Linked DNA regions of Homo sapiens. The protein of the gene in region 1 purifies or fractionates together with the protein of each later gene. This does not show direct contact. Each region holds a gene or a part of one and is shown on either strand. Other genes may lie near its edges.

Region 1 (5,692 bases):
CCAGTCTCCCATGCTGAGGCTTGGAGGTGGGAACGGGTGTGCCTGTTCTGGGAACTGACTGCGTCGTGCTGAGGACTTGATGTCTACATCTCACAGTATGTGGGAGCCTTGGGGTGGGGGCCGGCAGGGGGTGGTGTTGGAGAGGTGACGGCTAGGTCAGGCAGGGGTGGGGGACGTAGGCCAAGTGCGGGCGCTGCCCACCCAAAACAACGTGTGCAGTGGGCAGGTGAAGCCAGTAGGCGATGGTGGGGCCGGGGGTGAGCGGGTGGCACACGCCTGTCTTAAGGGGGCTGCGGCGAGGCCCCGGTGATGGCTGCTCCGGGCTTGCAGGTGATGTCGCCAGGGCTCTGTCACCTCAAGAGAAACTGGGACCCTCATCTCAGTATGAAAGTTCCTGGTTTTTAAGTGGTGGTAACTAATGAACATGGTTTAAAAATATCATACCAGCAAAACAAAAGCCATCTGTGGGTCATATTTAGCCAGTGCTTGCTGTGGCTCATGGGAACCCCTGAGGGATTTTAAGCTCAGGAAAATCATGGTCTGATCCGCATTTTGGAAAGGTCCTTTCAGGGCCTATGGAGAGCAAATAAGGCAGGTAGCAGTGAGGAAGGCTGGACCATGATGCCACGGTCCAGGCAGCAACATTGGGAGCATGGTGGCCCCGGCACTAGGGTAGGAGGTCCAAGAAGTTATCTGCAAAACAAGGAGCACTTCTGGAGGGCCCTAGGCACCTGCTTAGATATGGGGATGAGCAAGTGAGTGAGTGAGCCTGGTGCCCAGAGGCCTGGCAGGTCAGAGATGAGGTGGCTGAGGGCCCTGAGGGAAGAGAGGGGCTGTGTGACAGGGTTTGACGGGGCAGAGGTACCACCTCTGAAACCCTTCCTGCCAGATTGCGAAAGAAGCATGGGGGCTGTAAGAAGGCCAGAAGGGGCCGGGCGCGGTGGCTCACGCCTGTAATCCCAGCACTTTGGGAGGCCGAGGCGGGCGGATCACGAGGTCAGGAGATCGAGACCATCCCGGCTAAAACGGTGAAACCCTGTCTCTACTAAAAATACAAAAAATTAGCCGGGCGTAGTGGCGGGCGCCTGTAGTCCCAGCTACTTGGGAGGCTGAGGCAGGAGAATGGCGTGAACCCGGGAGGCGGAGCTTGCAGTGAGCCGAGATCCCGCCACTGCACTCCAGCCTGGGCGACAGAGCGAGACTCCGTCTCAAAAAAAAAAAAAAAAAAAAAAGAAGGCCAGAAGGCCGGGCACTGGTGGCTCATGACTGTAATCCATCCCAACACTTTGGGAGGCCAAGGCAGGAGGATCCCTTCAGCCCAGAAGTTTGAGACCAGCCTGGGCAACATAGGGAGACCCCATCTCTACCAAAAAATTAAAATTAGCCGGGCATGGTGGTGCACACCTGTAGTCCCAGCTACTCGGGAGGCTGAGGTGGGAGGATTGCTTGAGCCCAGGAGGCAGAGGCTGCAGTGAGCCGTGATTGTACCACTGCTCCCCAGCCTGGGTGGTAGGGCGAGAACCTGTCTTAAAAACAAAATCAATAAATAAAATACAGTAAAAAAGAAGGCCAAAAGCCCCTGTGGGGGGTAGGTGCACCAGACACTGTCCCTTTGGTTTCTAGGGTGACCATCGGGATGAGGAGGAAGAGACCCACATGAAGAAGTCAGAGTCGGAGGTGGAGGTGAGAGCTGGGGGCACCAGCCAGGTGAGGCAGACAGGGCTATCTCAGCTTGCCTGGCCCAGCCCCAACCTTTTCCTCGTGCCCTCAGGAGGCAGCAGCTATTATTGCCCAGCGGCCTGACAACCCAAGGGAGTTCTTCAAGCAGCAGGAAAGAGTCGCATCGGCCTCTGCGGGCAGCTGTGATGTACCCTCGCCCTTCAACCATCGACCAGGTAGTCCTAGGCCCCACCCCCCGTCCGGCCCCACTCCTCAGGTTGCGGCCCTGAGCCTCTCTGGGACTCTCTCAGAAGGGAGGCCTTGCCCAAGCAACCCTTGGAGAAGGCGAGACCCTTCATCCAGCGTGCATCCGCCCACCACTTCCCAGGTGGCAGGACCCCAAGAAGGGCCAGGGATGGTGGTGAAGTCGCTTGTGGCTGAACAGTGGGGAGTGCTAGGGCCTGTGGGGCAGCTCTGGCATGGGCTGAGGCACAGCGCTGGCCACGGGGAGCAGCTCGGCTGGGGTGAATTAGGTCTGGCCTGGAAGGCCGGAATGCATGCGTGCTGGGCTCTTGCCCCGGGCCTGAGGGAGCCTCCCGGAGCTTGCACCCAGGTGTCCCCGTTCCGCTTCTCAGTGTGCTGCTTCCGCCTCTCCTGAAGCTCTTCCCTGCCCTGTCTGCTGGTCTGAGTGTGCTTGCCCCATGCTGGGGTCCCGCCACAGGCCGTCCCTGCTGTACTGCTCCCAGGCTGGCTGTGTGTCTGGGGCTGGTGTGAGGCTGCGGCTGGCTTGGCTGATTGTGCCCCTGGCTGAAGGCAGCTTGGACATCCAGGGCCAGGCCCTGGGGGCGGGAGAGGCCTCGGGCAGGGGTGGGGGAGACTGACCCTCTCTTGTCCTCTGTCTCTTTCTCTGTCTGTCTCTCTCGGCAGGTCGTCCGTACTGCCCTTTCATAAAGGCATCGGACAGTGGGCCTTCCTCCTCCTCCTCTTCCTCCTCCTCCCCTCCACGGACTCCCTTTCCCTATATCACCTGCCACCGCACCCCAAACCTCTCTTCCTCCCTCCCATGTAGGTAGCAGCCCCAGGCCTCGGCGGGGGTGGTAAGGAGGGCCCCGCTTCCCAGCAGCCCCCCGCCCTCACTCCCCCAGTCTGACCGCTGATCTCTGGTGTTTGCCCCCAGGGCAGGCACTGCCTGCCTCTTGCCCCTGGCCTTATGGGGCACTGGCCTCCAGGGGCCTAGCTTACAGGGTCTGGAGCTGTAGTCTGGCCCCTGGTGGGGCTGGAGAGCTCCCAGCCCCCACCCAGATTCCAGAGAGGAGGTGCTGGCCAGGCCCCAAGGTGGACAATCCTGTCTCACCCGGCTCCCCCGCCCTCACTGACCCACCTGGGGTTTGTTCCACAGGCAGCCACCTGGACAGCCACCGGAGGATGGCGCCCACTCCCATCCCCACGCGGAGCCCGTCTGACTCCAGCACCGCCTCCACCCCTGTCGCTGAGCAGATAGAGCGGGCCCTGGATGAGGTCACCTCCTCGCAGCCTCCACCACTGCCACCGCCACCCCCACCAGCCCAAGGTGAGAGAGGGATGCTACCTGCACCAGGCCTCCCATCATCAGTCCCTGGCTGGGAGCCCCAGGTTGCCATGGTAACCGTTCTCCAGGGATCTGGGCCACCCATCACCAAGACTGCACTGCCCTGGAGGCGGCTGTGTGGGGAGGAGCCCTGGTGTACAGTCAGACCTGCCCTCTCTAAAGCTTAGCACCCGCCCTCTCAAGTGGGAATCGGGCCTTGGCCTTCCTCCCGGAGCTGCCAAGGGGCTTAAAGTCACTGGGGTCACTGGGTAAGGGGGCAGTGGGACACCTGCATGGAAGTCCCTGGCTCCCTCACTCCTTAGTGGGTGGGCAGGGTCTCCATCCTCCCCGAGGGGAGCCGGTTACATATCTCCTCTGCCTGTGCTGTGACAGAGACCCAGGAGCCCAGCCCCATCCTAGACAGTGAGGAGACCAGAGCAGCAGCCCCTCAGGCCTGGGCCGGCCCCATGGAGGAGCCCCCTCAGGCACAGGCGCCTCCCCGGGGGCCAGGCAGCCCTGCAGAGGACTTGATGTTCATGGAGTCTGCAGAGCAGGCTGTCCTGGCTGCTCCCGTGGAGCCTGCCACAGCTGACGCCACGGAGATCCACGATGCAGCTGACACCATTGAAACTGACACTGCCACTGCTGACACCACTGTTGCCAACAACGTACCCCCCGCCGCCACCAGCCTCATTGACCTATGGCCTGGCAACGGGGAAGGGGCCTCCACACTCCAGGGTGAGCCCAGGGCCCCCACGCCACCCTCGGGTACTGAGGTCACCCTGGCAGAGGTGCCCCTGCTGGATGAGGTGGCTCCGGAGCCACTGCTGCCAGCAGGCGAAGGCTGTGCCACCCTTCTCAACTTTGATGAGCTGCCTGAGCCGCCAGCCACCTTCTGTGACCCAGAGGAAGTGGAAGGGGAGTCCCTGGCTGCCCCCCAGACCCCAACTCTGCCCTCAGCCCTTGAGGAGCTGGAGCAAGAGCAGGAGCCGGAGCCCCACCTGCTAACCAATGGCGAGACCACCCAGAAGGAGGGGACCCAGGTGCGGCAGGGACTGCCTGGTGGGAGGGATGGGAGGGAGTGGGGGCTGAGCAGGGTGCTGGCCCTGCATTCCTCATGCTTGCACCAGTACCCCCTTCTCTGTGACCCACATTATTTGAGGGGAAGTCCATCCCACCCTCCCTCCCTGGGCCGGCTCTGCTTTTGTTCCCAAGGCAGGCATCCTTGTTTCCCTGGCAACCACTGATGGAATCATTGGTTGCTGGGGAAACGGGCTCAGGCCTGATAGGTCAGCCCCAGTCCTGCTGGGTGGGGCCAAGTGACCTGATGCTTTCCCCTGCAGGCCAGTGAGGGGTACTTCAGTCAATCACAGGAGGAGGAGTTTGCCCAATCGGAAGAGCTCTGTGCCAAGGCTCCGCCTCCTGTGTTCTACAACAAGCCTCCAGGTAGTACTGGGCTGGATGATGGGGAGGAATTTGGGTGCGGGGGCTGGATTTGAGTGTGGGTAGCCACCCCACCACTACCCACCGCTCACAGAGGCTGGGGACACAAGCGGTCTGCTAGGTCCCTAACTCCTCTCCCTTTCTAACGCCACAGAGATCGACATCACATGCTGGGATGCAGACCCAGTTCCAGAAGAGGAGGAGGGCTTCGAGGGTGGTGATTAGCGGTGGCGCCAGCCCTAGGCTACCCTTGCCAAGGCCGCCCACCTGCATCAGCCTCTGGCCAGACGGCCCGCCGTGCCTGCATTCGCAGCAGCTCCGCCTGGCACCCACTCCGGATTCCGGCCCTGGCTGGGGACTTGGCCGCTTCCCTACCCACAGGGCCTGACTTTTACAGCTTTTCTCTTTTTTTAAAAAGTTGATAGGAGACTTGTACAGTTGACTGGCTTTCCTCTCGTTGGTAGTTGAGACGCTGTTGCAAATTCCACCCCTCCTTCCCTGGTCCAGATTGTAGCTCTTAGTCCTCCCTGCTCAGCTGGCCGGGTTGGAGGCCTCACCCTGCTTGGGGCCTGGCGTGGGGGGAGCTCTGGTGGGAAAATGTCCCCCACCTCTTTTCCTAGTTTTATGTTTCTTGGGAAAATATCACTTTGTATTCTCTGTCCAGGGCTTCAGATATTTTGCACGAATTTTAAAACATGGCAATAAATGGCTCGTGGGCTCTGGCTCCCTGGGACCCCCTCCCCGCCCTTCTTTTGACCCCTTCCTGTCTGGCCCAAAGGAAGTAGCAGGCCCAGCTGGGGCCCCTCGGCTACCCCCCGTCTCCTGCCGGGCAGGTCCCAGGTTGGAGGCCCTAGGCGCGGTTCAGGTCAGGGCTATGGATGGGGCCCAGGGGCTTTGGTGGCCCCTCCCCAACTCCTTCCTCTTTGCTTGGGTTCCTTTTTCACGTTTAGTAACTGTTTTTTTTTTTTTTTTTTTTTTTTTTTTGGAAAGCACAAACTTCTGTAACGGGTCGTGCTCATGTCT
Region 2 (3,095 bases), on another chromosome or scaffold:
GCCTCGGCCTCCCAAAGTGCTGGGATTACAGGCGTGAGCCACCGTGCCCGGCCCAACGATGAGCCTTTCTAAAGCTATTTCAGCATCTTTTGTAAAACTGCTACCAAAGACATCCATCTTGTCACATCTCTAATAAAAAGGATTTGAAACCAAATCGCACACAGGAGTGCATTCAACATTTTTCACATGAATGAATACAGTGGCAAGTCTGAGTTTAGTGTCAAGTAAATCAGTACTGGGGTGCTTCTGTTACAGAAAATGAATAACTCATGGCATTTTTATTATTGCTACAACAGTGGCAAATTTTTAATCTAAGCACTCTATAGTCACAATTATTCTTGCCTAGGTTTAAAGCTACTTAAAATCCTTTTTGGACTTAGGCAGACTAATTAACAAATAAATGAATGGGATTCCTAACCTAACACCAGGTACTGAATTATGAAACATTACACAAACAATTAAAAAAACTATAGTAGAAAAACCAACAGAACATACACAACTTAAAGAGAAAAAATTTTTATTGTGATATAAAATGCACTTATAAAATGTCCACCAGAAGGCATGTAATTCTTCACTGCTATATAAATTTACTGGGAATATGTTATTCACCATCTAGGTATGATACTGCCAACTAAAACATACTGTAAACGATGAGTTATACTCTATAACAAATGCATCACTGATTTTCAGCAATCATTGGTTTAATAATAATTAGTTTAAGACTATAATCACATCTATATTCTGGAATGTCCATTTACTTTAATGTAGTGTAGTGGAATTTAGAGTATAATTGCACATAGATGGTACAGAAAAACATTCACTTCTAAATTATTTTATACCTTCATGACAGGTAGTCTTCCTGACTGAAAATAACAGCTTCAGCTATGGTCTGCTCCAGGATTCTTAATGCAATAATTTGGGTGTATGTGTGTCTGTCTACGTGTACACCCATGGAACAACTTATATCTTTAGTAAACAAGTGCAACATTATTGTCAGTTATTTTGCATGTTTAAATATTATAGTCTGATTATTTGTAAACAAACAAAACCCCAAATACTCTAAATTCTATTTTAAAAATCTGTCAACCCACAATTATTCTAATATGCTTTACTTACTCGAACACAAATTTCTGAAAGGTGCATATATTACCTTAGATAATAAGGTTTAGAAATGAGTGCTTCACACTATGAAATGTGCATTTCCGATAAGTGATTTATGCAGCATAAAGTTTAGATCAAGAAATTACAAATCCTGGATCCCCACAGTTCATTTAGAAAATGCCTCAAAGTTATGGCTCTTGCAGCAGGTTTAACAGATTAAACATTAAGTGTTCTAGCTCCCTCTATTTCAAGTATCAAAGAAATATGAGGCTCAAAATCTCTCTAGGTTGTAACTGATAATGCAAAGCATTAGAAAACAGTTAAATGTGTTTTGAAATACAGTATTAACTGAGATTATTAAGGTGTTTATCTACGTTAGCCTGTTAAGTACCAGGACTTTAAAGTAATTTTAAATCTGAGTATTTGCTCGGAAGTGATAAAGAACACAATTTGCCCATAAATGTATGGTTTTGGAGAAAAAAGTCAATCCTGATTTTTAAAACTCAACATTTTTTGTTTCCTTTTGAATGATATTAATTTAAATTTCAATCTGAACATAAATGTTTGGCCTCACAGAGCATTAGAAAGATAATTTACTAAGGCTGTTTAAAGTCTTTCAATGTCATCAGAAATCCTGCAGTATAGAAAATATCTGGTACCCTTAAAGTTTCAGAGTGAGCTGATCTGCAATTTTAATGCTATTAAAAAAAAGTCAAATATAAAAGACTGCTGCAATATAAAGCACTATTTCTAAAAGTTGCAGACATGATCCTACAGTCTGACAGAGCTAGCACAGCTACTCGGAGTAAGCAACTTGCGGCCTTTTCCAAGGCACACTAAGTTTCCAGCTTAGAAAATACTCTAGCCTGGTCCTTAACATATTCATTAAGTAATATGAATATTTTAAGGTCTTTCTGTCCCACAAGAAAGTAGTAAGTTTACCCTTTGAGACATCAGACTTTCTAGAACTGGCCCAACTGTATAAAATTTTAAGAAGTATTTGAAGTGTGGAATCAACGCTATGAAAACAGTGTGACAAAATTAAACATTATGTTGAACCCTTTTCTAGCTTTAACTCAAAAATAGAAATCATGAGTCTTCTATAACATTAATTTTAAAAACACACAGAAGTGAAAAGTGCTATTTTCCAAAAAGTACAATTTTTTTCCCTACTTTATATCAACATGGAATGATTTCAGTTCTCCTGTACTAAAAGCTGGACTTTTAAAAAACTAGTATTACAATGTTTAATGTGATGACTTTAATCAGTAGTAGCTTCAGTTTCCGCTGGGCCCCTAATTAGTCTTCGAATTCCTCTTTTTCCTGCAGGACCTTTTGGTTTTGCAAAACTTTGCTTGTGTGCATGCTGCTTGGGATGTACTTCTTCATAAAGGAAGTCTGCAGTCAACTCATCCCCATTGTCTATCTCGATCTGTAAAAGATAAAATTAGAAGCACAACATTCAAAACCTAATACAAGCAACAAGCTGGTTTTCAGGTATATGAATGCTCACAAATAATACCCTTTCCAGTAAGGCAGAATCAAGGACCATATGTAAACAGTTTCACTTTCTTCTTTTGGGGGAAGGGGCTAAATGAGTTACTTGAATATATAATCAGCTACATTCACTTCCTTCTTGGTTCTTTCTTAGTGCTCCAGTTTAAATAATGTTTAAAAGTAGAAGCCACCACTACATTCTCAAGTTGCTATGATACACTATTTATTCAAGGAACATTTACTCATGACCCTTTCATCACTTGGGTCACTTGAAAGCCCTCTACAAGAGAGGTAAACAAACCATGGCCCGAAGGCCAAATCTTGCCCAAGGTAAGATTGTTTTACATTTTTTAAGGGTTGTTAAACAACAATAAGAATATATGACAGAGATTATATGTGGCTTGGCAAAGCCTTTACTTACTATTTGGTCCTCTGTAGAAAGTCAGCTGATCCCTGCTATAGAAGGTGCTACCCATGATAAAGTGATTGATTCTTAG
Region 3 (3,081 bases), on another chromosome or scaffold:
CAATCGTGGCTCATAGCAACCTCCACCTCCCAGGTTCAAGCAATTCTCCTATCTCAGCCTCCCGAATAGCAGGGACTACAGACGCTCACCACCACGGCTGGCCAACTTTTTTTTTTTGAGACGGAGTCTCACTCTGTCACCCAGGCTGGAGTGAAGTGGCATGATCTTGGTTCACTGCAACCTCCGCCTCCCAGGCTCAAGCGATTCTCCTGCCTCAGCCTCCCAAATAGCTGGGATTACAGGCATGCACCACCATGCCTGGTTAATTTTTTATTTTTAGTGGAGACGGGGTTTCACCATGTTGGCCAGGCTGGTCTTGAACTCCTGACCTCAGAAGATCCGCCCAGCTTGGCCTCCCAAAGTTCTGGGATTATAGGCGTGAACCACCACGCCCTGCCTAATTTTTGTATTTTTAGTAGAGACGGGGTTTCACCATGTTGGCCAGGCTGGTTTCTTTCTTTTTTTTTTTTTTTTGAGACAGACTTTTGCTCTTATTGCCCAGGTTAGAGTGCAGTGGCACAATCTCAGCTCACTGCAACCCCCGCCTTCCGGTTTCAAGCAATTCTCCTGCCTCAGCCTCCCAAGTCGCTGGAATTACAGGCGCCTGCCACCACGCCCAGCTAATTTTTTTGTATTTTTAGTAGAGATGGGGTTTCACCATGTTGGTCAGGCTGGTCTCGAACTGCTGACCTCGTGATCCACCAGCCTCGGCCTCCCAACATGCTGGAATTACAGGCGTGAGCCACTGCGCCTGGTGAGACTGGTTTCAAACTCCCGACCTCAAGCAATCCGCCCACCTCAGCCTCCCAGAGTGCTGGGATTACAGGCATGAGCCACTGCGTCTGGCCCAGTCTTCCCCTATTCTCTGGACCACAGTTTGAAAATCACAGACAGGTCAACCTAGATCCTTCCAGCTCTAGTTTTCTACTGTGTTCTTTCCTCTTGAGAAGTTACAGCTCATCATGGGCCCTTAATAACAGAATTCAACAGAAGGCATCATCTGAAAACAAAGTCAATTCAGAAACTGTTGTTGCAAGAAGGCAAACAGAAAAACGGCACCATGTCCCACTGGAATCTCTTTCAGCGATGGAGAGTTTTGTTTTCTGGTAAAAAATATAGAAATAGTGGTTGTCCTTGAGGGGACTTGTGGTTTGGTTCTAAACCTCCCCATGGAGCCGAGTGGTGTCCCTGAGGGTGAGGAGGGCAGAGGTCTCTGCTCAGAGCTGCTCTGAGCCCATCCGCAAGTTTTTGATCTCCAGTTCCAACTGTTTGGCCTGGACCTCTCGCTGGGTCAACAGCTCCCGGAGCCTTCGGATCTCCTCCTGTTGCCGGTAGAACATCTGCAGCAACTGGGGAAGAAAGATCGGAAGGCAGGATCACCATGGTGTCAGGACACCAGCTGAAAGCTAAACCACTATCCCTCTTTGACTCAGAAAGGTGGAGGCGGTCACATTAACATGGCTGAGGCCTGATGGGGCTGTCACTGCATAGATCTTTTACAAACACCTTGTTTACTTCACCCAATAAATGAAATTCAAGAAGACTGGAATGTTTCAGATGTATTTTGCTTCCATAGATCCTCCATGAAATAGAGGAAAGGATGCCTGGCTCTGAAGTCTGGGGATTGGTGTTTTCGCCACCACTGAACTGTGTGACCTTGGGCAAGTTACTTACCCACTCTGAGCTTCCATTCCTTCCTCTGGAAAATGGGGTCAGAAAACTGCCCTCTGTGCAGAATGGGTGTTAGATATTGAGTGATGCCCTAAGGGCCTCGTTATCCCACTGGAACGTTGTGACACCCCTATAAGGGTGGCAGTGCTAGTGTCCCCACCGTACCACCGTGGAAACGGAAGCTTAGAGACATTCAGTCTCTGGGTCTAAGACCCTAAATTAGTACTCAGCAGAGCCAGGATCAGAATCCATCTGTGAGATGCCAGCCTCTGTGTTCTTAGCCACTACAGACTGACTTCCAGGGCTGTTGAGAGAATTCAATCACGTGCTGTATCAAAGTGCCTACCCCAGGATCTGCCACACAGTAGGCACTAAACAAATGTGGACTTTGAAAGCACAGAAAGTCCTATAATGTCAGAACTGGAAAGACTTTGATACCCACTAGGTCAAACCCTCTCCATTTTACAGATGGTTTCCCACCATTTTTTTTTTTTTTTTTTTTTTTTTTGAGACAGAGTCTCACTCTGTTGCCCAGGCTGGAGCGCAGTGGTGTGATCCTGGCTCACTGCAGCCTCTGCCTCCTGGGTTCAAGCAATTCTCCTGCCTCAGCCTCCAGAGTAGCTGGGACTACAGGCACGCACCACCATACCCAGCTAATTTTTGTATTTTTAGTAGAGACGGGGTTTCGCCATGTTGGCCAGGCTGGTCTCAAACTTCTGGCCTCAAGAGATCCACCCGCCTTGGCCTACCAAAGTGCTGGGATTACAGGTGTGAGCCACTGCACCTGGTCACCTGGTCCCCACCATCTTTTTTTTTTTTTTTTTTTAAGATGGAGTCTTGCTCTGTTGCCCAGGCTGGAGTGCAGTGGTGTGATCTTGGCTCACTGCAACCTCCACCTCCCAATTTCAAGCCATTCTCCTGCCTCAACCTCTCAAGTAGCTGGGACTACAGGTGTACGCCACCACACCCGGCTAATTTTTGTATTTTTAGTAGAGATGGGGTTTCACTATGTTGGCCATGCTGGTCTTGAACTCCTGACCTCATGATCTGCCCGCCTTGGCCTCCCAAAGTGCTGGGATTACAAGAGTGAGCCACTGTGCCCAGCCTCCCACCATCTTTATGTATGCCCATCATTTTGGCATAAGATGGAGCTCACTGCCTGTTTGTTGAATGAATTAACAAAATGAGTCAAGTGACTAGGCCAGGCCACACAGCTGGTTATTCTTCTCATGCCTCATTTTCTCCCTTCTTCTCAGCCTGGATCTGTTCCCCTCCACCCCAGCTGCCCCATGTGAAAGGCCCACCCCGTCCTCCTTCACACCTCATTCTCTGTCTTTGGTGGGGGGCATTCGAAAACGTCAAAGCCATTTGTCAGCCAGGTTTTCTTCTCCTCCAGCCTGTGTTCTGCTG
Region 4 (3,133 bases), on another chromosome or scaffold:
GTGAAATTATACATTTTTTTATACATATGTTTCGCTTATCATGTTGCCGAAGGGAAGAACATTTCTCTTAGATGTCTTTTCTCCTCTTTGGATTTGTTACAAACCTGTTTAAGTGCTGAGTCCCTGACCTGCCTCTCCAAGTAAGCCTTTTTCCTTTTTTTTTTTTTTTTTCTTACTCTCATTCTTGCCTTGACTCTTAAAATCCTGGACCCTATAGAGCATTCCTTGCAGCCCCACAGTGCTGTGGGCTGGGGGCTAAAGCAGTTCTTGGCAAACTCTGGCAGAAAGCAAGAAAAAAAGAATCAGAATTCAATCATGGCTGTTTCTTTTGTACAAGCAGTTGTTGATAGTATTAAAGCAAGATAATGGGACATTATCAAAAATATAGCACTGTTTTTACCTTATGAAATAGTTGGGTTGCATGCAACAGAGTCTATGAAATCAAATGTTTTTTACTAATCAGTTTGTTTTCTTATTACCTGTGTTTTTAAAGTGGCTTGAAAGGTGGCATTTCCATGAGTGTGCACATATTGATGATAACCCTTAGAAAAACATACACTTGAGGAGCCTATCCATCATTTAATTAGCCTAGGACTTCATCTCCCTCTCTGCCCAAAGTGTGGAAGTGGTAGCTCTTTCATGATCATGGGCACAGTTAATCCTTTGCTATCCATTGTGATGGGGCATAATGTATATAAAATATTTTTCTATGTATTTGTTCTGCCAGATACTGTGTTGAGATATTTGGCAATATCTGGATAACTGACTGAAGGGAGATAACTTCTCCCCAGGCCTATCTCCCTCCCCCTTTTAGAGTTGTGCAGGTCCACTTTAAGTGTAAAATCACTCACCTGGACTTGTGGGCTTGTATCACCAACATCTATTATGGCACATGTAGATGACATTTAGGAGAAAAACCTTAGAAGTCTAGAAATCATATGATTAGTTCAGCACTGCAGCTCCCCATCTGCTTATAGTGTATAACTGGAAGCTCTTTCATCCTCATCAGCATGATTAAATGACTTCGTTTCTTTCATCTTTGGAGGGTATAATGTAAATAAGTGTCGTGTGTGTATGTGTGTGTGTACTGTCAGATATCTAACTAGGTATTTGGCTACATCTGGACAACTGATTGAAGGGAGATGCTCTCTCCCCAGTCCTCTTCCCTTGTCCTTTTTAGAATTGCTGCAGGCCCAGGTTAAATATGAAATTACTCCCTAGGCTTTGCAGTTTATGTTACCAACCACCACATTTTATAGCTATGTAGAGGATGACTCTTAGGAAATAAATATTAGAAGCCTAGAAATCATTTAGTTGTTCTAGCACCAAATCTATCCATTTGCCTAATGTATTTAACATTCCATCCTCATCAACATGATGAAGCCCCTTTCTTCCATCTTTGTAGGGCACATTGTATATAAATATTTTGTACATAAAGATCATCAAATACCATAATGGGGTATTTGGCTTCATCTGGAAAATTGACTGGAGGGAGATGCTGTCTCCCAGCCCTGCTTCCCTCGTCCCTGTCCAAGTTGCTGCAGGCCCAGGTTAGAAGATTACCAACCTGGAGGGGCATGCAGTTCATCTTACAATAAAAGCCCATTCATTTAAAAACTCAGAAATCATCCCAGTGCCTGTACTCCTCAAACCAATTTCCCTAAGGGAAGACTGGCACACCAGCCCAAAGAGCAGGTGCTTCTCTTCCAACAGAAACATGGCCCCTGACAGGGCACCAGCATTAGGGAAACCAATGTCCTCCGAATAGCTGCCATGAGAACATTTCAGATGCTCAAACTGAAAATTCTTAAAACCAATATTAAGCATCAGCATGCTTTAAGTGTAAGATAGCCCTTTGGAATTTACAAACACATGTGCAGCTATTTCCTTCTTCACAGATATGATGTACTCAGCCCCCTCCTAGGCACTACGAAGAAGACAGAGGAAGCATAAAAATTCTGGACTAATATAATTTTATATGTGTTTCTGAGATTGGGGAGTAGACTGAGTGCCTTTTTTACAAAGAAGATCCCATATTTAATTCAAGTATTTATAGCATCAGCAAAAATGGGCAGAGGGCGGGAAGTTGAGAACACTAGGTTCTGTGCTATGTTACCTGTATTCAGTAGAAGTGTTTCTGGAGTCAGGTTTTAAGTCATGATCCTGAAGCTTCCTTCCCCTCTTCCACTAATGATGCAATAATAGCTGTTTTCATTTTAACGAGCAGAGAACTAAGAGGAAAGGTCCTAGCTCTGCCTTCCACTTGCAGCTTCCCTTTACCTCCTCTTATTGCTTTCATCTCAAATATCCCTGCTACTCAACCAATCCTAAAGCTAAAGTACTGAGATGCACACAAAGGAAAGGTGTGAGAGTGCTTGGAAGCATCCAGCTGAGCCCACTGGATGAAAATCAGACGATAGGGCCTCCTGTTGTAATATACTAGCCAGAGAAAAGCGCCAAGAACTTCAGGGATATTATTCACTGCTTTATTGCTCCCTAACCCTAGATCAGATTGGATTTTACTTTGTAGTTCAGGAGTTAAGAAGTCAAATTGCTGACCGAGGTGGGGAAGGATGATGGAAATTAAAGGTTTACATTTGTTTAATGGCAGAACTGAGATTTGCTCAGCTTATCTCTTTCCCATCTGTCTGTAATAGCAATGACTGAATAATCAGTAGACCAATGGAAGAGGAGTTGCAAGTTTAAATTTGTAACCTGACTCTGGGTTCTGTTCTAGGAATAGTGCATGTTTTAGAGGCTTTGCCAGTTGGGATACATTGTTGACTTGGGGGAGGATGAAGGAGAGAACTGATGACCTAGACATAGAAAAGAGTAGTTAACTAACTAGATGTTCTTCTGATCTCTTCCATGGTAGACATTCTGAGCACATTGGCCCAGTTAGTTGGTATGGTGAAGGGGCACCGTACTAACAGATTTGGAGACTGAAACCTAATCCCATCACCAACACTTAGCAGGTATATGATCATGGGCAATTCATTCAATTGCCTGCCAATTATAGACTATATAGGGGGAAGAGCACTGGATTTGGAGTCAAGAAACCTGGACACTTGGCTCCACACTTCCTTAGCTGGGTAACTTTGGGCAAACCGCTTGGTCTCTCAAGCCTAAGGTT

What was found. Proteins that work in one complex are often made in the same cells at the same time.
Region 2: the proteins of DBN1 (region 1) and TWF1 purify together in Homo sapiens (affinity purification with mass spectrometry; 3 studies listed by BioGRID and IntAct, with this or other methods). This does not show direct contact.
Region 3: the proteins of DBN1 (region 1) and CORO2A purify together in Homo sapiens (co-immunoprecipitation; 2 studies listed by BioGRID and IntAct, with this or other methods). This does not show direct contact.
Region 4: the proteins of DBN1 (region 1) and TMOD2 purify together in Homo sapiens (affinity purification with mass spectrometry; 2 studies listed by BioGRID and IntAct, with this or other methods). This does not show direct contact.

The regions. Positions count from the first base shown.
Region 1 is NC_000005.10:177,456,635-177,462,326, reverse strand, and holds part of DBN1 (drebrin), read left to right. Parts: exon of another isoform or gene 1-95; intron 96-1,623; coding exon 1,624-1,683; intron 1,684-1,771; coding exon 1,772-1,895; intron 1,896-2,586; coding exon 2,587-2,724; intron 2,725-3,058; coding exon 3,059-3,229; intron 3,230-3,619; coding exon 3,620-4,269; intron 4,270-4,569; coding exon 4,570-4,672; intron 4,673-4,823; coding exon 4,824-4,894; 3' UTR 4,895-5,692. UniProt on the Homo sapiens protein: Actin cytoskeleton-organizing protein that plays a role in the formation of cell projections. Required for actin polymerization at immunological synapses (IS) and for the recruitment of the chemokine receptor CXCR4 to IS.
Region 2 is NC_000012.12:43,793,223-43,796,317, forward strand, and holds the end of TWF1 (twinfilin-1), read right to left. Parts: intron 2,929-3,095; exon of another isoform or gene 2,753-2,928; intron 2,599-2,752; exon of another isoform or gene 2,580-2,598; intron 2,534-2,579; coding exon 2,363-2,533; 3' UTR 501-2,362; downstream 1-500. UniProt on the Homo sapiens protein: Actin-binding protein involved in motile and morphological processes. Inhibits actin polymerization, likely by sequestering G-actin. By capping the barbed ends of filaments, it also regulates motility.
Region 3 is NC_000009.12:98,123,557-98,126,637, forward strand, and holds part of CORO2A (coronin-2A), read right to left. Parts: coding exon 2,993-3,081; intron 1,350-2,992; coding exon 1,218-1,349; 3' UTR 1-1,217.
Region 4 is NC_000015.10:51,810,597-51,813,729, forward strand, and holds part of TMOD2 (tropomodulin-2), read left to right. Parts: 3' UTR 1-3,133. UniProt on the Homo sapiens protein: Blocks the elongation and depolymerization of the actin filaments at the pointed end. The Tmod/TM complex contributes to the formation of the short actin protofilament, which in turn defines the geometry of the membrane skeleton.